Linked DNA regions of Homo sapiens. The protein of the gene in region 4 interacts with the protein of the main gene of each other region in a biochemical or structural test. Each region holds a gene or a part of one and is shown on either strand. Other genes may lie near its edges. The genes, in order: IFT80, IFT57, IFT74, UBXN10, IFT46, IFT27 and IFT52.

Evidence for each region.
Region 1: the proteins of UBXN10 (region 4) and IFT80 form a complex in vitro, tested with the Homo sapiens proteins (one study listed by BioGRID).
Region 2: the proteins of UBXN10 (region 4) and IFT57 form a complex in vitro, tested with the Homo sapiens proteins (one study listed by BioGRID).
Region 3: the proteins of UBXN10 (region 4) and IFT74 form a complex in vitro, tested with the Homo sapiens proteins (one study listed by BioGRID).
Region 5: the proteins of UBXN10 (region 4) and IFT46 form a complex in vitro, tested with the Homo sapiens proteins (one study listed by BioGRID).
Region 6: the proteins of UBXN10 (region 4) and IFT27 form a complex in vitro, tested with the Homo sapiens proteins (one study listed by BioGRID).
Region 7: the proteins of UBXN10 (region 4) and IFT52 form a complex in vitro, tested with the Homo sapiens proteins (one study listed by BioGRID).

The regions. Positions count from the first base shown.
Region 1 is NC_000003.12:160,392,726-160,396,225, reverse strand, and holds part of IFT80 (intraflagellar transport protein 80 homolog), read left to right. Parts: intron 1-3,500.
Region 2 is NC_000003.12:108,163,425-108,166,924, forward strand, and holds part of IFT57 (intraflagellar transport protein 57 homolog), read right to left. Parts: coding exon 3,430-3,500; intron 2,070-3,429; coding exon 2,007-2,069; intron 306-2,006; coding exon 239-305; intron 1-238. UniProt on the Homo sapiens protein: Required for the formation of cilia. Plays an indirect role in sonic hedgehog signaling, cilia being required for all activity of the hedgehog pathway.
Region 3 is NC_000009.12:27,057,412-27,060,911, forward strand, and holds part of IFT74 (intraflagellar transport protein 74 homolog), read left to right. Parts: intron 1-3,179; coding exon 3,180-3,240; intron 3,241-3,500. UniProt on the Homo sapiens protein: Component of the intraflagellar transport (IFT) complex B: together with IFT81, forms a tubulin-binding module that specifically mediates transport of tubulin within the cilium. Binds beta-tubulin via its basic region. Required for ciliogenesis.
Region 4 is NC_000001.11:20,192,596-20,196,095, reverse strand, and holds the end of UBXN10 (UBX domain-containing protein 10), read right to left. Parts: 3' UTR 46-3,500; downstream 1-45. UniProt on the Homo sapiens protein: VCP/p97-binding protein required for ciliogenesis. Acts as a tethering factor that facilitates recruitment of VCP/p97 to the intraflagellar transport complex B (IFT-B) in cilia.
Region 5 is NC_000011.10:118,544,043-118,546,487, reverse strand, and holds the end of IFT46 (intraflagellar transport protein 46 homolog), read left to right. Parts: exon of another isoform or gene 1-340; coding exon of another isoform or gene 341-369; intron 370-634; coding exon 635-695; intron 696-993; coding exon 994-1,079; intron 1,080-1,476; coding exon 1,477-1,572; 3' UTR 1,573-1,945; downstream 1,946-2,445. UniProt on the Homo sapiens protein: Forms part of a complex involved in intraflagellar transport (IFT), the bi-directional movement of particles required for the assembly, maintenance and functioning of primary cilia. May play a role in chondrocyte maturation and skeletogenesis.
Region 6 is NC_000022.11:36,759,120-36,762,619, reverse strand, and holds part of IFT27 (intraflagellar transport protein 27 homolog), read left to right. Parts: intron 1-3,500. UniProt on the Homo sapiens protein: Small GTPase-like component of the intraflagellar transport (IFT) complex B that promotes the exit of the BBSome complex from cilia via its interaction with ARL6. Not involved in entry of the BBSome complex into cilium. Prevents aggregation of GTP-free ARL6.
Region 7 is NC_000020.11:43,639,437-43,642,936, forward strand, and holds part of IFT52 (intraflagellar transport protein 52 homolog), read left to right. Parts: intron 1-3,042; coding exon 3,043-3,188; intron 3,189-3,500. UniProt on the Homo sapiens protein: Involved in ciliogenesis as part of a complex involved in intraflagellar transport (IFT), the bi-directional movement of particles required for the assembly, maintenance and functioning of primary cilia. Required for the anterograde transport of IFT88.

The DNA.
Region 1 (3,500 bases), on a different chromosome or scaffold from region 4:
TAATGTTACCGAAACACACATAACTTATCACCGAAAACCCAGGAAGCTAGAAGGCAGAACAGCTCTTTTTTGGAAATATCATTTTGAAAGATAAGTATGTTTTTATTCCGTAGGTTGGAATTCTGGAAAGATATATTCAACAAGCAGTAGAGGTAGAGAGTATGGCTTAAGAGAGAAAATAAAATGGGTAGTGCTGTAAGAATAACTGGATCACTAAAAATAGGTTAGGTTTTTAAGATTGTAAGTGGAGAGAAGCTAGCACCAGACCAAGGATATTAAGGAAATGTTCATTTTTAGAATGTAAGAAGAAGAAATAATTACAGTAATATCTAGGATAGGAGCCTGTTGATTACAAGTGACAGAAAACCCAATCCAAATTGTCTTGAGAAAAAACAAATATTGTCTCCTGGAACTAAAAAGTCAGGTGACTATAACTGGATTAAGGGTTCAGACAAAGACACAAGGATTTGGTTTCTTTCCTTGCTTTGAACTCCATTGTGTTGGCAGTATTTTCAGGTTCCGTATGATGGCCTCTAGCACCTTTTGGCTCTCCCCTTGCTGTGGTAAGATAGCTACAGCAACTCCAGCCTCATATCTTCTAAAATTAAAATCCAAGGGGGAATGAGAGTTTCTCTTCCCCAGCATTGATTTGAATAAAAGTCCTGGGCCACCTGTGAAACAGTCTGTGCAAAGGGAATGGAATGCTCTAATTGGCTTAAGTCTGGGCCTCATGCCACATGGGCTAACAGTGAGGAAGTGGTTGTTGCAAAGAGAAATTCTTTTTAGGTGGGAAAAGAGTGACTATATATATGCAGGGTGAAAAAACAACTTTCACTGGAAATACTAACATTTATTAAGTGCTTACTGTGTATTGGGTACTCTACTGGACACTTTACATACTTTATCTCATTTAATCATCATAACTAATTTGTCAGGTAGGTATTATTAGCCTCATTTTACATAAGAAAGTAAACAAAGTATAGTATCTTCATGAAGATAAGCCAGGTGAGAGTTTTAATAAGAAGGGGATTCAAGTGTGGAGAATGGTGATCTTATAAAAATATTATTTATTAGGGTTTTATAGAAATGCAGAAATGCATAAAAATTAGGTCATAATCCTTTCACTCAGATAATTCTATATTAAATATATAAGTGGATAGATTAAATAATACTGTGAGCATTGTTGAAAACTTCAAACAGAACAGAAACATATAAAATTAGAATTTAAAGCTTTCCTTCTCATCCCAGTGCCCCCACCCTTTTAGGGGTCTCCATTATTAAGTGTCTTGCATATCTTCCCAGAAAATGTTTTGGTATCCACCAGCTTAAATATATCTCACTTTTTCTTTTCACAAAAGGAATTGAATCATATAATACAGCTGTATACCTTGGTTTTCTCATTTAACATAGACATCTTTCTATATCAACATGTACAAATTCATCTCATTTTTAAAATAGTTTTTTTTTTTCTTTTTTGAGATGGAGTATCACTCTGTCGCCCAGGCTGGAGCGTAGTGGCACAATCTTGGCTCACTGCAACCTCCACCTCCTGGGTTCAAGTGATCTCTCCTGCCTCAGCCTCCCGAGTAGCTGGGATTATAGGCGCCCGCCACCACGCCCAGCTAATTTTCATTATAAGTATAGCCAATACGAATAATATTGAAGTATGGCTATTAATCATAGCTAGAATTTCAAGGAAATGTAAATACCACAGCGTACACATACACTTTCGCAAATGCATACAGGAATTGAGATGGGGTGGGAGTTGGAGGTCTTTACTAATTAAACCATGGTTGTCCAACCCACGATCCATGGGCCACATGCGGCCCAGGACAGCCTTGAATGCAGCCCAACACAAATTTGTAAATGTCCTTAAGACATTATGAGATTTTTTTGTGATTTTTTTTTTCTTTAGCTCATCAGCCATCATTAATGTTAGTGTATTTTATGTGTGGCCCAAGACAATTCTTCCTCCAATGTGGCCTAGGGAAGCCGAAAGATTGGACACCCCTGATAAAGTAAACGGCCATACTGTTTGCTGTGGCTAAGCCTTTGAGTCCGTGCCTGGAAATGGTGAGCCTGCTTCTCTCTCTTTTCTACTGTACAAGAGATCTCAGCTCAAGTGTGCAAGTTCTGTGATGGCACCAATCTGAATAAAAGGCTTGCCTTTCTCCTTTCTTCTTTCTCTATTGGAGAAGAGACACAGGAGTCTGGTCAGAGCTATCAATTTAGGGGACCGTTGATAAAAACTGTACTTCTTTTAATAGGACCTTGGTTAGTAATAAGCCAGCCTGCTTTCTCTATTAACTAGTATGCAAGTGACCCAAAGAAAACTCGGTATAAATATGCTTGTGATCTAGCTCTTGAATTTCTTATCTATTCTTCACATTCTTGTTCACTACTAGAGATTTTTCTGCCACTTCTTATCTATAGGTACATTCTTGTTGACAAGTCATGGTCTCCCTGTTTATCATCTAAAATTTTTCTTATTGTTAGTGCTTTTACCTCTTAGTTTTATTTCCTAAATCTAATTCTTTTATTTTCTTTTTTAAAAACCATCTTTTTTTTAAAGTGTACAGTTCAGTGACATTAAGTATATCCACAGTTGTGCCACTGTCACATCCATTCATTCTTCCATCCATCCACAGAACTCATCTTGCAGAACTGAAACTGTACCCATTGAACAATAACTCCCTATTCTTCCTTCCCCTAGCCCCTGGCAGCCATCATTCTACTTTTTGTTTCTATGAATTTGACTACTCTAGGTACCTTATATAAGTGGAATTCATACAGTATTTGTCCTTTTGTACTAGCTTTTTTCAATTAGCATAATGCTTACTTAGGTCTAACTCTTAATTATATTTTCTTGATTTTAACCCTTCCATATTATAAACACATATATCCACACAGGGATGTAAAATCTATGAACATTTAAATTTCTAATTTTTGATAGTATTTCAGAGTTCTGTAATGAACAGATTTGAATATACAGACAGTCTCAGACTATGATGGTTTGACATGATTTATATTGACTTTATGATGGTGTGAAAGGAAAGCACTTTTCAGTAGAAACTGTCTTTAAATCTCTGGGTGAGATAGGAAGCCACTGAAGAGTGTTCAGCAGTGGTTTATTTAATCTAATTTATATTTTTTAGAGACAGGGTCTCACTCTGTTGGCCAGGCTGGGGTTCAGTGGCATGAACATAGCTCACTGTAACTTTAAGCTCCTGTGCTCAAGCAGTCCTCCTGCTTCAGCCTTCCCAAGTAGCTAGGACTACTGGCATTCACCACCATGCCTGGCTAATTATTTATTTTTTTGTAAAGAAGGGGGTCTCACTATGTTGCCCAGGCTGGTCTTGAACTCCTGGCCTCAAGCAGTCTTCCTGCCTTGGTCTCCTAAAGTGCTGTGATCACAGGTGTGAGGCATTGTACCTGGCTGTGGTTTATTTTAAATCAGCCACATGGGCTGTTGTGGTGAGCATACATTGTAGAGTGGCTCA
Region 2 (3,500 bases), on a different chromosome or scaffold from region 4:
TTGAATCAATAGTTTGAATGTTAAAAACCTCTAAATTATAGTTAAAAAGCCTACCCTTCTCAGCTGATTTATAAGAAAAACAGTACGCTGATTATCAGACATTTTTGTACAATGAATCTCTCTTCAAACAAGCAACAAATAATTTGTTTTATATATTAATACTATTTTGTTAAGTAGGTTTCTTGAAGAGCTATTTTTCTCTTGCTCAGTTTTTCCCCTAAAATGAGCATGTACTTACCACCATCAGTCATGCTGCTGCCCTTTTCTTCCATTTCTTGTTTTACCTTTTCTAATTCTTCCATAACCTTTCATGAAAACAAGTTTTCATGAGCATTACATTTTAATAAACTTTCACAATTTTTGAATTATGTGTTAAGAAAATGTAATTTAGATATTAGCCACACATATAGAAAAATAAAGATATTAGGAATATTTTGGACATAATTCAAATAATATAAAGTATGCAGATATACAAAGCTTTTCAGTTTTTCAGAATGCTCCTAATGTTAAACTTCACCAAATGGCTGTCACATCTGTTTTCTCATGTTGCAATATACTAAACACAATCAAAGTTGTTTTAGTCACTAGACACTCAAACCTCGCAATTATCTCATCGCATATACTTTGAAATTCTCTAATAACTGGTTATTAATTAAAATAGTATAAACATCCTGAAGAGATTTTAGATTTCTAAAGCTTTTCTGGGTATCTTTCTTAATATTATAGTTCTATAAGACATTATGTCACTTTTTCCTCTATAGGACACTAAAAAATGTTTATATCATATGGCTATATATAAGAATATTCTTATTGCTTTATCCAAATCATGAACTCCGAACTCCAAGGAGGCATACTTTGCTGTCACACTTGTTCCTATCTGCACTCTATCTGGCGATTATACTACTATAACCTCTATTATTAGCAAAATTCCAAACCAGCATTAATATAAGTAGAAAATACTATCTTTAAGAAATTGAAAATTTTTTACATGATCTACAACTAAGCTATAATTATTGTGACTTAGTAGGCTTTATTTTTATCATACTGGTGAGTAAAACTTTCCCTGGGAATAAAGTGCTCATCCAAGTAAAGCAAATTAATTTTTTCAGGCATCTGAAATGTTACAACTGGGGATAACTATCTACTCCAAAAGAAGTAAATGGTTCCCTGGACTCCCTTCAAGTGTTAATTTACCTAACATAAGTGAACACTTTACTTCTACATACTGTTTTATTTGCTTAGAAGCACCACAGGATTACAGTCTAAATATTTCTGATGTTATATTTTTAGTGTTTTAAAATAACTTTATTCCTCAAATAATCTCTATAAAAGAGGTTTAATTCTTTCCTGTCAAAACAGTAAAGTTTGTTCCAATTATACTGGATTGTAACCAAAGATCATCTTGGATTTTAGTCCCAAATAAACTACTGACCTTTTTTCAAGGTTTTTTCCTCCTTTGGCTCTTCAGTGAAAAATGGGAATATATATCAGGTCCTACCTCTCTTGCAAGATCATAAAAATAAATGCAACTATTTATTTTTATGCAAATATTCTAAAGGAGGAGGTTATAAGCCACTCCCAATTGTGGACAGAGAAATACACCCAGGATCACACACAAATTATCAATAACAGTCACTAAAAATAAACCTTATATCTTGCAGACTAACGTTAAAATTTGTTATAGATTCCTTAAGTCAGTGCTTTACTATTCATCCCCATGTTAATAATAATTATTATGTAAAAAATGTTGAGGAAAATTATAAGTGTGCTAATATTATGAGCAGGTTTTATGTTGAATTTAATACAGAAACTTCAGGCATCCTGTGGAAACAAGAAATGTATCAATTATTGATTCAGTCATAGGAAAATTAGGGATTATCTCCTAAAGAAAATGATTTAAAGGCACAGGAAGCAACTGAAATTAGCAGTGTTAAACCATTTGTAGGTTCTCAATGGCTGGGGCCCAGCTGACAGGTGAGAAGCAGGGCAAGAGCATCAGTGTGTACCTCAGAGAGGAGTCTGGTTCTTTCCGTCACTCCTCCATTTCCCTGCTGGTATCGCTCCTTTGCCTGAGAGGAAAAACATTTTGTTTAATGGCAAATTCAAAGCAGCAGCAGATTAAATACGACTGACCTCTTTGTGTTTGCAATTTCTGCAGGTCATTTTATGACAACCCTGCTCCTTGTTTGTGAATACATTTGTGAAAGTGACATTTAACTGTAGCTGTTTTATGTCCCTAATAGGCAGCATGTATTTAACTAAGTACTACAAAATGATGAACTACCTTAACCTTCACAAACTGACTGTGTACCTCGCATGGGCATGGTTCACAATAAAAACTGTCCTTGGTCATTCCTAAACAGTTTAGGAGAGGGGCTCTTGGTCAATCTAATTTGCATGCTCCGCAGAGAAAGTCCGTTCTAAAACCAAAAATCAATCAAAGTAGAGCATGAAGCTCAATGATGAATAAGGATTAACATCCCGTAAGACAGTACACTCAACTGGAGTATGTCAGAAACTAACAATCAATTATATAATATTAATATTAGACAAATACATGGTGGCTTTGATCAGAGAGTTTTACATCATTTTGATAGTTAAAATATTCATAAGTAATTGTGTATATGAAGGAATAATACATTTAACAAATAACATCAAAAAGTGTAGATTTCTATTTAGTCTTTGAGGACTTCTGAAAGTATAGAAGTATCTCAAATTTACTTCTACTTTTTTCTCTTTCTCAACTTTGTCTGCTGAAGACAAAAAATATGCCTTCAACTGATGTTTGCAACTGTCCTTACTAGCCTTCTTTAACATCAGAAAATAGGGGGCACAAATCCCAAAGGAAAGCTTTTAGATCCCTACTGCTGGGACAAAGAACTGGTGCTTTCAAAGTCTAGTGATTTTATTTTTTGGTTAAAATTCTAAAACTTTGAAAGAATGAAAAATTTGTCTCATTTTATTAATTAAACTGCTTGTCTCTGAATGTATCTTGCTTTCACATTCCTTATTATGTGGTTGTAAGCCAGAATGGCAAGGACTGTCTTTTTCCTTTGACACATGTAAATGCATACTATTCTTCTTCCTCCTACGCCAATGGTAAATTAACAACAGACTTATAGAAGCAAAACCAGGTGTCCTGATACTCTGTTCCTGTTCTAAGCTATGTTCCCCCAACAGCATATGCCTTCATTTACTTAAATCAAATGAAGACGTGCATTTAAAGACTTCCAGGAGAAAACAACTTCTATTACATGTGAAATGGAAATAAGTTCACTCGGCTCTCTTGGCTTCCTAAAGTGGGCAGAAAATTGATGTTTTGCTGTTCATGAAAAGCATTTCATGATTCTCAAATGAACAGTATTGTGTCAAGTTTAGGGTTTAGGGTTGTTAACTTGAATAAATCCTTGGAAATCATTCTTAAATTACCTCACTCAGCTGGGCTTGAGCTGCACGATATTCTTGAACCAAATTCTCAAGCTGATTGTTGATGTACTTTT
Region 3 (3,500 bases), on a different chromosome or scaffold from region 4:
CTCAGCAATTATTTGTTGAATGATTGAATGAAGCATTATGTGTCATGTACAAAGTCAATAACTACGGTCTGAAAAAAATTGATCATTCTTATATCTAATTAGTCTATATTAGAAATTTGCACACATGGTTTAAAACCCTAAATGCATTAAAAATTCCCTCTTTTGGCCAGGCACGGTGGTTCACGCCTGTAATCCCAGCACTTTGGGAGGCTGAGGTGGGCGGATCACGAGGTCAGGAGATCAAGACCATCCTGGCTAACAACGGTGAAACCCCGTCTCTACTAAAAATACAAAAAATTAGCCAGGAGTGGTGGCGGGTGCCTGTAGTCCCAGCTACTCGGGAGGCTGAGGCAGGAGAATGGCTTGAACCTGAGAGGCGGAGCTTGCAGTAAGCTGAGATCGCGCCACTGCACTCCAGCCTGGGTGACAGAGCGAGACTCTGTCTCAAAAAAAAAACAAAACTCTCTTTTTCTTCATATGGTTATGTGATCATGATAGAGCAAAATAAAAATGATGTCATTTGATTTTCCACTACATAGGTACAACCGTTGTTAACATTTTGGTGCCATATCCTTGTAGTATTTTCATCCTTTGCAATCATACATCCATATTGTTTTTACAAAAAATAAAACCATGCTATTCATACAGTCTTTCAACATTTTCTTAACTTTTTTCAGCCTTCTTTTTTTTTTTTTCAAACAGAGTCTCACTGTGTTGCCCAGGGTAGAGTGTAGTGACATAATTGTAGCTCACTGCAACCTGGAGCTCCTGGACTCAACCGATCCTCCTGCCTCAGCCACTGAGTAGCTAGGACTACAGGCACAGACCACCATGCTCAGCCAATTTTTATTATTTTTTATAGAGACAGGGTCTTGCTGTATTGCCCTGGCTAGTCTTGAACTCCTGGCCTCAAACTGTCCTCCTGCCTCAGCCTCCCAAAGTGCTGGGATCACAGGCATGAGCCACTGTGCTTAGCCTTTTTTTTCTTTTTGAGACGAAGTTTTGCTCTTGTCACCCAGGCTGGAGTGCAGTGGTGTGATCTTGGCTTACTGCAACCTCCACCTCCTGGGTTCAAGCAATTCTCCTGCCTCAGCCTCCCAAGTAGCTGGGATTGTAGGCGCCAGCCACCACGCCTGTCTAATTTTTTTGTGTTTTTAGTAGAGACAGGGTTTCACCTTGTTGGCCAGGCTGGTCTCGAACTCCTGACCTTAGGTCATCCACCTGCCTCGGCCTCCCAAAGTGCTGGGATTGCAGGTGTGAGCCACCACACTCGGCCTTTGGTGACATTTCTATAGCATTAGCTATTTCATTGTATGGATGTACCATTTGAAAACAACATACACCTTACATTCTTTTTGAAAAGGGTAGAATCTCATGAAAGCTTGCTACAACTACTAAAAGCTTAGAAATCACTAATTTACATAATTCAAATTTACCAGTTATTCTGTTCTACTTCATATGGAAACCTAGATATAGACTTATAATTGACACAATTTTCTTAGGTTGTTTAGAGTGAGGATGAGTGCTGGGGAAGAAACAAGACAAAGTTTGGGAGGTCATTGTCTTCAGCAATTCTTGGAAAAAAATACTGATACTTCTTATGGAATATTAGCCCTCCTCATTCACTGAATAGATGATTTAAGGTGGAAAGCACTTGAAAAACACCATTTCTTAGAGCCAGTGAGTGGTTAACTTGTTTATCCCCACATTAATTGCTAATTTTAACTCCATGTATTGATAACTGGAAATCATAACATAAGCCACAATTTCGAATCCTTCTCTGTGTTATTTGTCATCTTTTGTGAATCCCAACTGATTAAGTCAAATCCTGGTCTTCCTATCTTTCACAATTATCTTCTTGAAAACTGGCTTTTGGCATCTCTAAAGAATTTTATGTAACAGATTATTTAAACTAGTTAGGGAAAAACAGATTTTCAAAATGAATTTTTGCTTCATGATGTCCTTGGAGGTTTAAAGGAGTCAATAATATAGAGGTATAATGTAAAAGGAATTTGACCATCTGACACAGCATTGCTTTTATACCATTCCTGTAGCACTTAACAGGTCTGATGCATTATAAGAAGGCCACCTGTTTGTATGAAACAATGACAAAAAAGTCTGGTACTTGACTTTGCTGAAGGTTATTAGAAATTTACTGCCAGAAACTGCTGACTGCTTCCTTAAGTCCATCTTAACTTCAAGGTCCTGTCTGGGGGAGATTGATGTGATTAGTAATACCAGCTCACAGCACATACAGTTCACATAATTAATTAGCTATGATTCATTCTAATATCTAGATTTATCTCTTTGGAGGAAACAATGAGATGGATCTACATCAAGCCTGAATTTACGCCCTGAAAATTATTTTAACATGAGGATAGAAACATTTCCACTGTTGCTTCAATTATTGTATTTTTAAAAATAATCATTACTTCTTTGAAATGTCCAGGTGGAACATAATTTTAGCATTTCAATTTTCAAATGGTCCTTTGCTTTGGAAAAAACTATGTGCATCTTAAAAAAGAAAGACCATAACCAGAGTTACAAGGTTAATTAAATCAGAAAAACAATATAATTCTATAACAGTAAAATTGTCTTCTGAGGAAGCAACCATCAATATAATATCCACATTAGCTTCCTGTTGATGCAGAAATTATTGTAACAGTGCCAGCTTTTTACCAGCTCTCTTATAATCTTCACACTGCAGCTCTGCTCTTATCACAGCTTGTGGAATTACACAGGAAATTTAGCCCTGGAAATAAGGAAGTTTCTCCTATATGGCTGAACCTTTGACAGTGTTTGAATATGTATTATATTTGTGGCATTAGACTTCCAGATTTTAAGAAGAGATTCCCATCATGTCCCATTTTTCTTTTAAAAGTTTTTTTAGGGAAAGGAAAATCATAAATTGTCTTTCAGTTGGCATGTTCATTGGTATAATAAACATTTAAAATATAATTAAAATAAATATATAGAGTAAAACATGTTATAGGATTCATCACTGTATTAATATATTTACTATTATTTAATCTTTTTTTTTCTACCGTGGCTTTATCTCAATAAAATGTAAGTTGATAAGATTTAAAGTTGGAGAGATTTTTTTTGTCTTATCCTCTTAGAAAGGCATTTAATTGTTTTAAATATGGGTCCTAATTAATATTTTTCTTTTATGTTTTTAGCTTACAAATTTGGAGAGAAAGTGGCAACACCTTGAGCAAAATAATTTTGCGATGAAAGAATGTATCCTTTAAAAAGCTGAAAATGGGGCCGGGTGCGGTGGCTCATGCCTATAGTCCCAACACTTTGGGAGGCCGAGGCAGGTGGGCCACAAGGTCAGGAGATTGAGACCACCCTGGCTAACACGGTGAAACCCCATCTCTACTAAAAAATACAAAAAAAACATAGCCGGGCGTGGTGGCGGGTGCCTGCAATCCCACCTACTTGGGAGGCTGAGGCAGGAGAATGGCGTGAAACCGGGAGGTGGAGCTCTCAGTGAGCCG
Region 4 (3,500 bases):
CCCCACTGCACAGATCCCCTCATATAAACACGAGGTGAGCATGAAAACTATGAAACTAGGAGCTTTATTAATTAAGCCCCAGAATGATGGCTTTGTTTGCCTTCCCAAGAAGAAATGCATCCCCAGTCAGCTGCTGGACTGGAATAAATGGAGGGAAGGGTGGCAAGAAAGGGAGGGATGAAGGACAGGAGATAGAGATAAACAGTGTATTTAACTAGAACAAGGATTTCTTATTAAGTAACCTTGGTCAGCAGTCATATCATACCCCTAGAGGTAGATGATACTTTTAACTTATATCTCAACATTAAGTGAAACAGTGACCTTAGTTTTATCTCTTAATTAAAACAATGAATAGCTTTGATTTTCTCTGTACACTTTGTCCAAAAACACTCGTGCATTTCCTTGATGGGAATGTTCCTGCTGGTCAGTGTCTTTCCCCTGCCTGCCATGTGCTTTGCTGCCGTGGTGGTTGTTTGCTTGTTTGTTTTTGCAGAAACAATCCACGTTGGCGATATTGGTCAAGCTAAGTCCACCTGGGTGAATCCCAACTTGTCAAACTATCCTTTTTTTTCTCCTTAAGAAAATGGATTATATGTCCAGAATCTGGCCACCTCTCATGACATCTCTGGCTACCACCCTGGCCCGAACCACCATCACCTCTCTCTGGTCACCTTCATACCTCCAGCACTCAAGTCTTCCATCTTCCACCCCAGCCCCTCAACACGGCAGCCAGAGGGCGCCTCTGAGCAGGACAGTCTGAATGAGGCTTGCTCAGTTTTACCCGTGGGCATTTGTCACCACAGTCGTTCAGTCTCTTGGGATAGGATTTAAGTGTGTCCAAAAATACCTCCAGAGATTTGTGCTTCCGCGTCGACTGTTAGGAGGGCTGCTGCTTCCTAAACTGTTTGAACATAAAGGCACACAGATGAACGTCAGAAAGGGCTGGGAGAAGCTTCCCTAATCAGGAAAGGAAAGTGGCACGCCACCCGTGTAGACAAAAAATAAAACACCTAATTTTAGTTTTATGAGTGTTGTGTGTTGGTAACTGAGTCACCAAAAGTCTGTTCTCCTTTGATTGCTAACTCCTCCGAAGCGACCTCAGGCCTTCCCTGTTATATGGTGGGGTTTGGTTGGTTCTGGTTTCTGGATGAGAGTCAATAGGCTCGTGAACTTTTAACTTTACTGTGGGGTGTTGCCTTAATGGACTGAGAAAACAGATGTTCCTGCTTAATTCTTGGAATGACTTCTAAACTAATGCTAAAGCAAAATAATATAGCTGTCTTCTTTATTCCGTTTAAAAGGTAGAAAAGTAGATCCTCTTACCATGTAAAAGTCTCTTTTATCCGAACTTATTATGAGGATTTTATTTTTAAAACTAAGTAAAGAGAAACATCTTTGTCCCAAGAGGCAGGGTGGCTTTATTTGACATTAGAAACCCATTTAAAACGGCAGGTAAGAGCATGAACAAAAGCAAAGTTTAGTTCCTCGAATGCCTGCTTTTGTAATGCAGGTGGATCTGGCTCTAGTCTTTAAGGTTATTAATTGGAATGAATGCCCCAAGGCTGCTCTTAGTTTCTCTGTGAAGCATTTTATATGGGAGCTCTGGGGTGACTCTGGGTCCACAGTCATGTTCACAAGCCATCTCTTCCGCAGGAGTGCCCTGCCTTGAAGGCTGTTGGCTGGGTCCCCAGATATTCTCAGGGCAAGATCTGTTGTGTTATAACCACCTGCCATCTGTTGGTGCAAATTTTCTGGATTCTAGATGATGAATCACTTACTTCTCCTGCTGTTCCTTCTGCTGCCAAGACTAATTTACCTATTGGACTTTATGAGGGAATATACTAGAGTAACCTATCATGAAGGTTTGTCCTATGCAAAGTTCCTACTCCATCACTAGAAAAGGTGGGCAAGAGCTTCCTTAGCATCTCCAGAGGGTGGGATGAAGAGCCAGCAGTAACAATGTGGGATCCTCACTTTGGGGTCCTTTGCAGATAAAGCTATAGCCACTGACTTCAGTAAGGTTTGAGTTGAGAGTCCAATGGTGGGTTCATGTTTTCTTGCCAACACTTTCTTTTCAGGACACCCATGCTTGTCTCAAAGTGTGGCACTGGGTAAGCCCTCAATGGCCATCGGTTAAATGAATAACTGAGGTCTATGACCCCAAACTGGGCAAGGCTGACCCACCCAAAGCCACCAAGAGGAGTGTGCTAGGCCGGTTGAGCCCATTTAGGACAGGGGGCCTCAGCTGCAATGCAACATGTGGAGCCATCAGGAACTCTGAATTCTGATTTAGTTTGTTCTTGCCAATCCCCAAAATCAGAGTACTTGGAATGATGTTTAGGAAAAATTCAGGTGACTCTTATCCAGACAAGCTAAGTGCTGTGACAGAAGCTGAGAGCAGGAGCCCCGTCGCTTCTGCAGTGGGCATCAGAAGTGTCCGGGGAGGAGGACTTGGTTCTAACAGTGGAACAAGTGCTTTCCCAATGAGAAAACTGAAGATCAGGCTAACACACCCCTCTGTCCAGTCGTGTGTGGGAGCTGAAGCCTTAGGTTAAAATACGAGATGCACTTCTCCACTGACTCAGTTTCACACAAGTTGGTTTTTATCGTATCATCTTTTGTCCAAAAAAAAAATGTTTATTATGATGGTTTGAGTCTAGCTTTATTCACATATCCTAAAATATCCTAAAATATTTCTATGCTTATGCCTTCCACTTTTTCCCAACCCCAAAATTCTAAGCTCACCAGCAGCAGCAAACCCTAAGCACAGAAGATTCTAACTCCTTCAAGCTTGCTCCATTTCACTCAAGTTTTCTAAAGCTTTCCTGTCTGGAGAAATTACCAAGTCCCAGGTGGGTGGGATTTTATTCTTACCACAGAGTAGGTGTGATTTTATGGGAGGCTCTTCCCCCAGCCTCCTAGATCAGACATAGAGTTATGTGCTCAAGTCCTGGTGGGAAGTGAAATTCCTGTACTTTTAGGTGCTGGGCTCAAATTCTGTCTGCTGTGGTCATTAACGGGAAGAGGTGGCCAGTTGTGTGGGCCTGCCTGAGGCACCACTGGCCCCAGCTGACCTTTCCAATCAAAGGAATGGCTGACCAAACCAGGATGGTATTAAGAAATTCTATAAAACATTCAGAAATAACCTATTCTAGAATGATCTGGGCAGTGTGGGATGCAGTTAGGACCAGACCAGCCTTCTTCTGAGCAAATGGCAGTGGTGCCCATCTCCACTAAGCCTCAACGTGCGAGAAAAAACACTCCCAACCATGCAGCTTATCTGAGCACAGGATGCGCTTGTTGCTGGGGTAGCCACATGTATATGCTTCTGGAACTCCTGATTCCTGCCTTCTCTCTGTATACCCAGGAGGCGGGAGCACACACCAGAACTCAGGACTTTGTGATGACCATGCTTTGGGGGAACAACATGCACAGAATGTCTGAGTGTTCCCTACTCTGAAGGATGATTTGGCCATAAAAGGGATCAGATGAGTCATGGA
Region 5 (2,445 bases), on a different chromosome or scaffold from region 4:
TACAGGGTATTACTCTATGCCCAGGCTGGAGTGCAGTAGCTCAATCTCAGCTCACTGCAGCCTCAACCTGCTGGACTCAAGCAGTCCTCCCACCCCAGCCTCCCAAGTAGCTGGGACTACAGATACTCAACACCACACCCGGCTAATTTTTTTGTAGAGATGGAATTTCACCATGTTGCCCAGGCTGGTCTCGAACTCCTAGGCTCAGGCGATCTGCCCACCTCAACCTCCCACAGTGCTGGTATTACAGGCGTGAAGCCACCACGCCCCACCAAGATTGATTTCTTCTGAGGGGTCTCTTCTTGGCCATCTTCTGTGTCTTCCCATGGTCTTCCCTCTGTTATGCGTCTTTGTCCTGATTTCTTCTTCCTATAAGGACACCAGTCATACTGGATTAAGGCCCACCCTAATGACCTTGTTTTAATTTAATTATCTCTTTAAAGATGTTATCTCCAAATATAGTCACATTCTGAAGTACAGGGAGTTAGGAACTCAATATCTGAATTTTAGGGGAACACATTTCAGCCCATAACCTGTGTCTTATGCTAGAAGCTCTTTTGCTTCAGAGAGAGAGAGTGGTTCTGGGACCACTGACACCATCCTTTTGACTTTGGTCCTTCCATGCCCCTTCCAGGTAAGCCTGCCCACGGCAGAGATTGATTGCAGCCTGGCAGAGTACATTGACATGATCTGTGGTGAGTTCCTCTTTCCTTTCCTCGTCCCCATCTCTGGATAGAGACACTCTAGGCTTTTGGACAGGCTTGTTTACTCTGGGAAGATAGTATCTTGAGTTTCAGCCTTCACTTTAAGCCCGTTGTGCTCTTTGGCAGCACTCAAAGGTGGTGTTTGGCTTATGTGACTACCTGCTGGGTATTTAACCCCCAAAGTCATAGCGACACCCCATCTGCCAGGGCTTTGCCTGTGCTAGACAGAAGGGCCTCTAATTCCCGGAGTTTGTTTGCTTCTGTTCCTGGAAGTTCTTCTTCGTTTCAGCCATTCTAGACATCCCTGTCTACAAGAGTCGGATCCAGTCCCTCCATCTGCTCTTTTCCCTCTACTCAGAATTCAAGAACTCACAGGTGAGCCAAGCATCAGGGGTTGACTTAAGCTGTAGAGAGGATCACTATAGTTTCTACTGTTCTGAGCCTGCTGTGATTGCATCCTATAGCGATGTAGGATGTCTCTGCCCAGTTACCTTCGCCCTTTCCCATAATTAGGAGAGCAAAGGAGGCAGGGATGGAGTTTTCAAGGGGAAAGTGGAGGAAAAAAAAGGGTGGGTGGAAGTAGGAGTTGTGGGCCTTAGATGAAATCAGGTGAGGATCTACAGAGGACACTCGTTCTTTCAGAACCAAGTTCCCTCATGAATGGAAGCAGGAAGGAAATAAAGGGGGTTCATTTTAAAGAAATTAATTCTTGTTAAAATATAGCAATTAGCATATCCCTAATACTCAATATTCCCTCTCCTCTTCCTTGCAGCATTTTAAAGCTCTCGCTGAAGGCAAGAAAGCATTCACTCCTTCATCCAATTCCACCTCCCAAGCTGGAGACATGGAGACATTAACCTTCAGCTGAGACACTTCCCAAGCTGCTGTTTCAAGGCTGAGCTGGCCCCTCTGCCCCAGCTGAGATGGACAGATCGTTGTCAGCTACTTGATGTCCTTGCCCATGCCACAGCTTGGCTCAGGGGCAGTGCATGTCCTGCTGCCCTCTCTGCCAGAGGGCACAGAACATGTTTGTTTAATGAACCTGCCTGCCTCAGATTGCTGTCCCCGGGGAGTTAATGCATCTACACCACTGTGGGGATTTGAGTTATAAGAATTGGAATTTCTGAGATCCCATGGAGGTTAGATTGGGAGGAAAGCTTAAAAGATGTCCTTTTTGTGAGAGGGATGGAATTGTTTTCTTTCATTCGTAAAGTTAGTGAGTAAAGATTTTATAAATCAAATGCTCTATTATATTGTCAGATTATTCTGCTATTTAATATGAAAGAGAAAAGGCTGACTGAGCATAACGCAGAGACACAGGAACTTTGCTTAGTAATGGGCATTAAATGAAGAGTAGTTAAAGCAAACAAATTTTGTGAAATAAAATGAAACCCCAATCCTCCAAGATTGGCAGTCGAGGGGAATCATTTTTCCTCTGGAATTTAATTTTTCTAAGGGTCTCTCTTCAGTTAATGCCGCCTTCCTGAGGCTGTCTGGCTCCAGACCTGTCTGGTTCTGGTCTCAGGGAGCGTAGCTATTGCGGTAATCCAGGTGAGAGGTGATTGGGGTGGCAGTAGTAGAGATGGACAGATTCAGTAAATATTTTGGAGTTATGTCAGCCAAGCTCCAGTCAGGAAGTCTGAAACCATGCTAGTTATTTCTAACAAAGGGTGTTTAGCCAGGCACAGTGGCTCACGCCTGTAATCCCAGAACTTTGGGAGGCCCAGGCAGGCAGATCATG
Region 6 (3,500 bases), on a different chromosome or scaffold from region 4:
GCAATATTCTGGGTTCAGATGTTGTTGGAACATTGTTTCATGTGGCTCTCACAACCAGTCCTGTGAACCAGAAGTTGGCCCCACAGCTCCCATTCCAGTGTTGAGGAGCTCAAGTGACTTGTCCAAGGTCCCATGATTAGCGAAGGGTGGAGCCAGGATTAGGACTCATGGCCTCTAATTCCCATCGGTACCACCCATCCTCACCTTGCTGCAGCCCCAGGGTGACTCCAGGCCACAAAGTGCCTGCCAGTTAAAAGAGCAGAAGACCTCATTACAAAAAGCAAGTGATTTTCAGCGTCTTCAGTACACTTTTCCTGGCAAAAACTGCAATTACTTTTGCACCAACCTAATGTATCATGATTTTAGCTGTCCAGCACTGAGGAACCTGCTTCCTGTGTTTGGGAGTTTTAAAGTCCCATCCTCCTTGAGGCCAAGATGCAGCCATGTGACCCAGGCTGCACCAATCAGACCCCTCACATGAGACTCCACTAGGAAGGGCATGAAGTGATGATCTGCCCTCTAGGAACAGGTGTGGCCCTGAACATCCATCTCAGAGCCAGCAGGGGCCCGAGTGTTGGTTGCCCTGCCCCTCGCCAGGGTTGCTAGCTGGGGAGATCACCAGGCCTGGCACAGTCATGGTCGTAACTTGGACCTCACCTTGTGGCCTTTAGACCTGATTCTGTGGCCCTCAGAATTGAGTCATGGGCTGGTTAATGTTCTGGAGGTCATCTTCTGCTCCAGCTTGACTTTGGCTCTAGGCACTTCTGCTATTGCATCTAGGAACCTTGACCAGTGCTGCCGTCCGAGCTTATAAAACTCCCCCAAAGCAGCATGCTTCCTTAGGGAAAGTACAGCAGTAAAGGCAGGCACTCTGACCTCCCATGGTGAGTGGCAGAACTCGCCGTGGGAACCTGGACATGTTATTTCACCTGTTGGTGGCTCAGGCTTGTAAAGTGAGGATCATAAAATACATCCCTTATCGAGTAATAAATATGAGAATCAAGTAATATGTCGCATATAAAACATGGATCACAGAGTCTGGCGCCTGGTAAACACTCAGTAGATGTTAGCTTTCTTAAAGTATAAATATTACCCCTAGAATCTTGTTTATACTGTTATTACTTACTAAATCCTTGTATTCATGGCTTGTGCAGAGATAAATATCACCCTTGCCTCTGGTCCAATTATCACAAATGCTAAATTAATGAAGCCCAAATCAGCTTTTCCTGTATAGAGGGTTTGCCATCTTTTCTGCAGCACACCTTTGTGCAAAGCAGTAGGCGGTAGTGCCCTAGCAAACAGGATTTCAGTATTCTCCCTTCCTCCATTCATTTGTGAAATTGTCCCTGCACCCCAATATTCCATATTCCCTAGAACGCTTGATAGAACTCAGAAATTAAAACCCACCCCAACCTCCAAAACAGGAGTCACCAAAGGCCAGTGGGCTACGGGTTAAACTCTGTTGAGGTGTTGAAGTGGGTGGGTGGGTGTGAACTACTCTTGAAGAGGCTGCAGTAAGCACTTGCTATTATCTGTGCAAGTTAACTAGTCCCCCCTGAGTTGAGGCTCACAGAAGCACCGCTGGCAGCTCGGTTAAGAAAGCTGTAATTAAAAAGGAAATATAAGCAAACGCAGCTTGAGACGCAGCCAAGGGCTGGCGCCAAGCTCATCTCCTCCTCTCTTCTGCCTAAACACCGCAGTGACCATCCTGCCTACCCAAAGGAGGTCCCTACAAACAAGTGCAAGAACAATCCGCGCTGATCACTGCCCTCCCAGGCAAGCGAGGAGTGGGGAAGTAACGTTTGATGAGGGCCTACTGTGTGCTAGGTGTTTTGCACACATTATTTGTTTAGGCTTCATAACAGCCCTACAAGGTAACACTCCTGTGTTGTATAGATGACAGACTCAGAAAGGTTGTGTAGCTTGCCCTGGTTGCATAGTTAAACGAGGGCTAGAAACAGGACTAGGAGTCAGGCCTGTCCAGCTGGAAAACTTGGGTTTTCTAGAAGGGGTACCCTGGCCTCCTGCGGAGCCTGCTGTGGGACTCTGCAGAACACAATTCAAGGCCAGACTGAACACTAGCCTGAACCTGCCCTGAGAATCCCTCTAAGCCGACCTACTCCACAGCTGTCCTGACTGTGTAAGCGAGATGATGATTAGTGATCAGACGAAAGGATTCCTGTCATTGGTAACCCTCTCAAAGTATTTGGAAAACAGTTCAATTTTCATCTATTTCAGAAGCACGCCGTGGTGTCTATTGAGGCTCACCTGCATTGAATTCCTTCCTTTTTATGTTGCGATCTCCCAAGATTGCATTGTGGAGTGTTTTCGAATCCATTTTGAAATCCCCGTGCGTGCGCTATGCAGGCCTCAGTCTTTTTCCATTCCATTCTTAACTCTACTTTCGACGGAAGCAGTGTTTTACCCCGACACTGGCTTGCCTAGGACCTTGTGCTCTGCACAACTAGCAGGGCCCGGCAGGATGTACTGAATTCTTGCTCTCGTGTCCAGCTGGACGGTGATGGCTTTCAAGTCCTTGGCTGTTGGGAGCTTACTATAAATGTTCGTCTTGGCTACAAACTCTCCACTCTTTCCTCGGCACTCTCTCAGCATTGCCACCACTGTCTTTCCTCTTGGCCAACTGTTTTCTTTACTTAGGCTTTCCCTTGCTAGAAAGTCCAGGTAACTTTCTCCACGGGACCTGGTTTCCTTCGCACATCCCAGCTGGCCTCGAGGAAAGGTAGCTCTTCCCAAATCAGAGAATCTGGATGCTGGGCTGGGCTCTGCACCAACCAGCTGGGCCGCTTCACCCGCTGGGCCCCAAACTACTCATCTGTGAAGCGAAGGCACCGCGCTTGATGCCTTCTGCAACGTTCTTCAGTTTGGAAATCCTTCTGTTTCGTTGGGGATATTTCACGGCCTCTTCTCAAGGTTGCACTTTTGCCAGCTGCCAGGGATCGTCTCAAAACAGGTTCTTAGTGCATTCATAGCTTGAGCTGCTGTCTTGAAAGTAGTACATTCCTTTTTCTGCCAACTTTTTTCTGAGAAAGTTTTTGAATGCACACGTGCACCCAACAGAGTGAGAGTGGCTGTTAAGAGAGAGGGCGCCATTTCCTTTGCCCTCCAGCCTGTCCCTGTGCACCCTGGAGGGGCCCGTTTTTTCCACCGCTTAGATAAAATCTAGGGCAAGTTCCTGAACTTCTCTTTTCTCTCTCAGGTAACAAAAATTCTTTTGGGCTCCTTTAGTCACAAAGATATTCACGATTTCAGGTATTAAAGTGCCCAGCCCTGGGTGATTGTCAAAATTCTGAACTTGATTTAAAGTGGCACCTCCTCTCACAGTCTTCGGGAGGGAGAGACCGGAGCCAGGAGTGCAGCGTGTTTGCTGGGGTCTGTCGTGGCCCACTCCACACCTGCTGGGTGGATCCGGCTGGTGCCCCATGGGCGCCTCTGAGATGCCCCTCCCCACCCCATCAGTGGCGCTGTCTCACCTGCAGGCT
Region 7 (3,500 bases), on a different chromosome or scaffold from region 4:
AAGGTGGGCAGATCACCTGAGGTTGGGAGTTCAAGACCAGCCTGACCAACATGGAGAAACCCCTTCTCTACTAAAAATACAAAATTAGCTGGGTGTGGTGGCGCATGCCTGTAATCCCAGCTACTGGGGAGGCTGAGGCAGGAGAATCGCTTGAACCCAGGAGTTGGAAGTTGCGGTGAGCCGAGATCGTGTCATTGCACTCCAGCCTGGGCAACAAGAGCGAAACTCCATCTAAAAAAAAAAATTTTTTTAAGTAGCCAGGTGCGGTGACGCATTTCTATATTCCTAGCTACTTGGAAGGCTGAGGTGGGAGGATCACTTGGGCCCAAGAGTTGGAGGCTGCAGTGAGCTATGATACACCTTGCACTCCAGCCTGGGTGACAAAGGACCCTGTTTCTGAAAAATAAATAAATAGAAACAAAATAGAATATTACATACCTGTTAAAAGAAAAATGTAGCCTGGGTGCGATGGCTCACACCTATAATCCCAGCACTTTAGGAGGCTGAGGCAAGAGGATCACTTGAGACCAGCCTGGGCAACACTGTGAGACCTCTTCTCTATAGAAGAATAAACAAAATTAGCCGGGCATGGTGGCTCACTCCTGTAGTACCAGCTACTCAGGAGGCCCAGGTGGGAGGATTGCTTGAGCCTAGGAAGTCAAGGCTGCAGTGAGCTAAGATTGTGCCACTGTCCTCTAACCTGGTTGACAGAGCGAGACCCTGTCTCAGAAAAGAAAAGGCCAGGCGCAGTGGCTCATGCCTGTAATCCCAGCACTTTGGGAGGCCGAGGCAGGTGGATCACAAGGTCAGGAGTTTGAGACCAGCCTGGCCAAGATGGTAAAACCCTGTCTCTACTAAAAATAAAAATAAAAAATTAGCCAGGCATGGTGGCAGGTGCCTGTAATCCCAGCTGCTTGGGAGGCTGAGGCAGGAGAATTGCTTGAATTCGGGAGGTGGAGGTTGCAGTAAGCCAAGATCACGCCACTGTACTCCAGTCTGGGTGACAGAGTGGGACTCCATCTGAAAAAACAAAAAAGAAAATAAAAAAAATGCAGGGCATAAACTTTGATTCGGAATGTCCATAATACATCATTAAATGATGAAGTCAACTTAGAAAACTATTCTAGTTTGATCCCATTTTTGTGAAAACTTACATTTACACACAGAAGCATACATAGCAATAATAATTCTAGGTAGTTGGTGGCAGTAGAACTAGGATGAAACATTGATACAGCTGTGGGTTTGAATGTCTTAGTAAAAAACATACATTTCTATCAAAACTTAAAATGCAAATCAGAGGGAGAATAAATTAATTACAGCTGGGCTCAGTGGCTCATGCCTATAAGCCCAGCACTTTGGGAGGCCAAAGCAGGTGGATTGCTGGAGCTCACGAGTTCGAGACCAGCTTGGGCGACATGGTGAAACCCCGTCTCAAATACAAAAAATCAGCCAGGCGTGGTGGTACACACCTGTAGTCCAAGCTACTTGGGAGGCTGAGGTGGGAGGATGGTTTGAGCCCAGGAGGCAGAAGTTGCAGTGAGCTGAAATCATGCCACTGCACTCCAGCCTGGGTGATAGAGCCAAACCTTGTCTCAAAAAAAAAAAAAAAAAAAAAAAAGGAAGAAAGAAATTACAGTATAATGTGAGAAGGGCAGTAATGGCTGTCTATCCTACATGTAGGGCTCCAGAGGATGGCTTCACAGAGCTATGTTGTTGGTGGAATTATGGGTGATTTTTTTCTTTAATTTTCTTTCTATAATATTGTTTGTTTTTTGGGGTTTTGTTTTGTTTTGTTTTGTTTTGAGACCTAATTTTGCTCTTGTTGCCCAGGCTGGAGTGCAGTGGCACGATCTTGGCTCACCACAGCCTCAGCTCACTGCAACCTCTGCCTCCCGGGTTCAAGCGATTCTCCTGCCTCAGCCTTCCTGAGTAGCTGGGATTATAGGCATGCACCACCACGCCCGGCTAATTTTGTATTTTTAGTAGAGATAGGGTTTCTCCATGTTGGTCAGGCTGGTCTCGAACTCCCGGCCTCAGATGATCCACCTGCCTCAGCCTCCCAAAGTGCTGGGATTACAGATGTGAGCCACCACGTCCCCCAGGCTGGAGTGCAATGGCGTGATCTCAGCTCACTGCAACCTCCGCCTCCCAGGGTTAAGCAATTCTCCTACCTCAGCCTCCCGAGTAGCTGGGATTACAGGTGCGCACCACCATGCCCGGCTAATTTTTTTGTATTTTTAGTAGAGACAGGGTTTCACCATGCTGGCCAGGCTGGTCTCGAACTCCTGACCTCGTGATCCGCTCACCTTGGCCTCCCAAAGTGCTGGGATTACAGGCGTGAGCCTTCACGCTCGGCTGTTTTGTTTTGTTTTGTTTGAGATGGAGTCTGTTCTGTTGCCCGGGGTGGAGTGCAGTGGCGCAATCTCTGTTCACTGCAACCTCCATCTCCCCAGTTGAGGTGATTCTCCTGCCTCAGCCTCCCGAGTAGCTGGGATTACAGGCCTGCATCACCACATCTGGCTAATTTTTGTATTTTTAGTAGAGATGGGGTTTTGCCATGTTGGCCAGGCTGATCTTGAACACCTGACCTCAAGTGATCTACCTGCTTCAGCCTTCCAAATTGCTGGGATTACAGGCATGAGCCACCACGCCCAGCCAATACAATATTGTTTTAGTAAATGCTATTTTTAATTACCCATATGCTTCTCTATAGTCATCTTTGTTGCATTCAGGGAATGATAATTTGATTTCCTACTGTTGCACCTGTTCTTTCTAATGTAGGAATACTAGATCTGAGGAATAGGAAAGCCAGTACCAGTCCAGTTTTATTCTGATTAGGAGTGCTTTTATTATAAAAGCAGCACATTAGAGAGCTCTAGGGTTTTTCAGTGTTGAAATCCTGTAGTCACATTACTTTAGGAAGAGGTGAGTGATCTTAGGAAATGTGGAAACATGACAGGGCATACCTGAAACACACTAAGTCTGTACTTTGGGAAGGGCAGAAGTTAAGAATTAATCTAACTACTACTCCAACTGTCTTAGGTACTGAAGAAGACCTGGAATTTTATGTCAGGAAGTGTGGTGATATTCTTGGAGTAACCAGTAAACTACCAAAGGACCAACAGGATGCCAAACATATCCTTGAGCACGTCTTCTTCCAAGTGGTGGAGTTCAAGAAATTGAACCAGGTACAGAGCCTACAAGGCACAGTGTAGTGGGAGCCCCTCCAGTACTGGTATCTTCCATGGACTGTGCTTGCCATGTTTTATGACGTTGATTCAGCCTGTAAATATTTATTAAGCATCTACTAGGTGAACAAAACAGACAATAAACCCTGTACTTATGGAACCTATATACTAGCTGGAGGATGTAGACAATAAGCAGTAAACATAAGTGAGTCACATAGGATGCTAGAAAATGGTAAGTGCTTTGGTATAAAAGAAGTGGAGGCTGGGCGCAGTGGCTCACGCCTGTAATCCCAACACTTTGGGAGGCTGAGG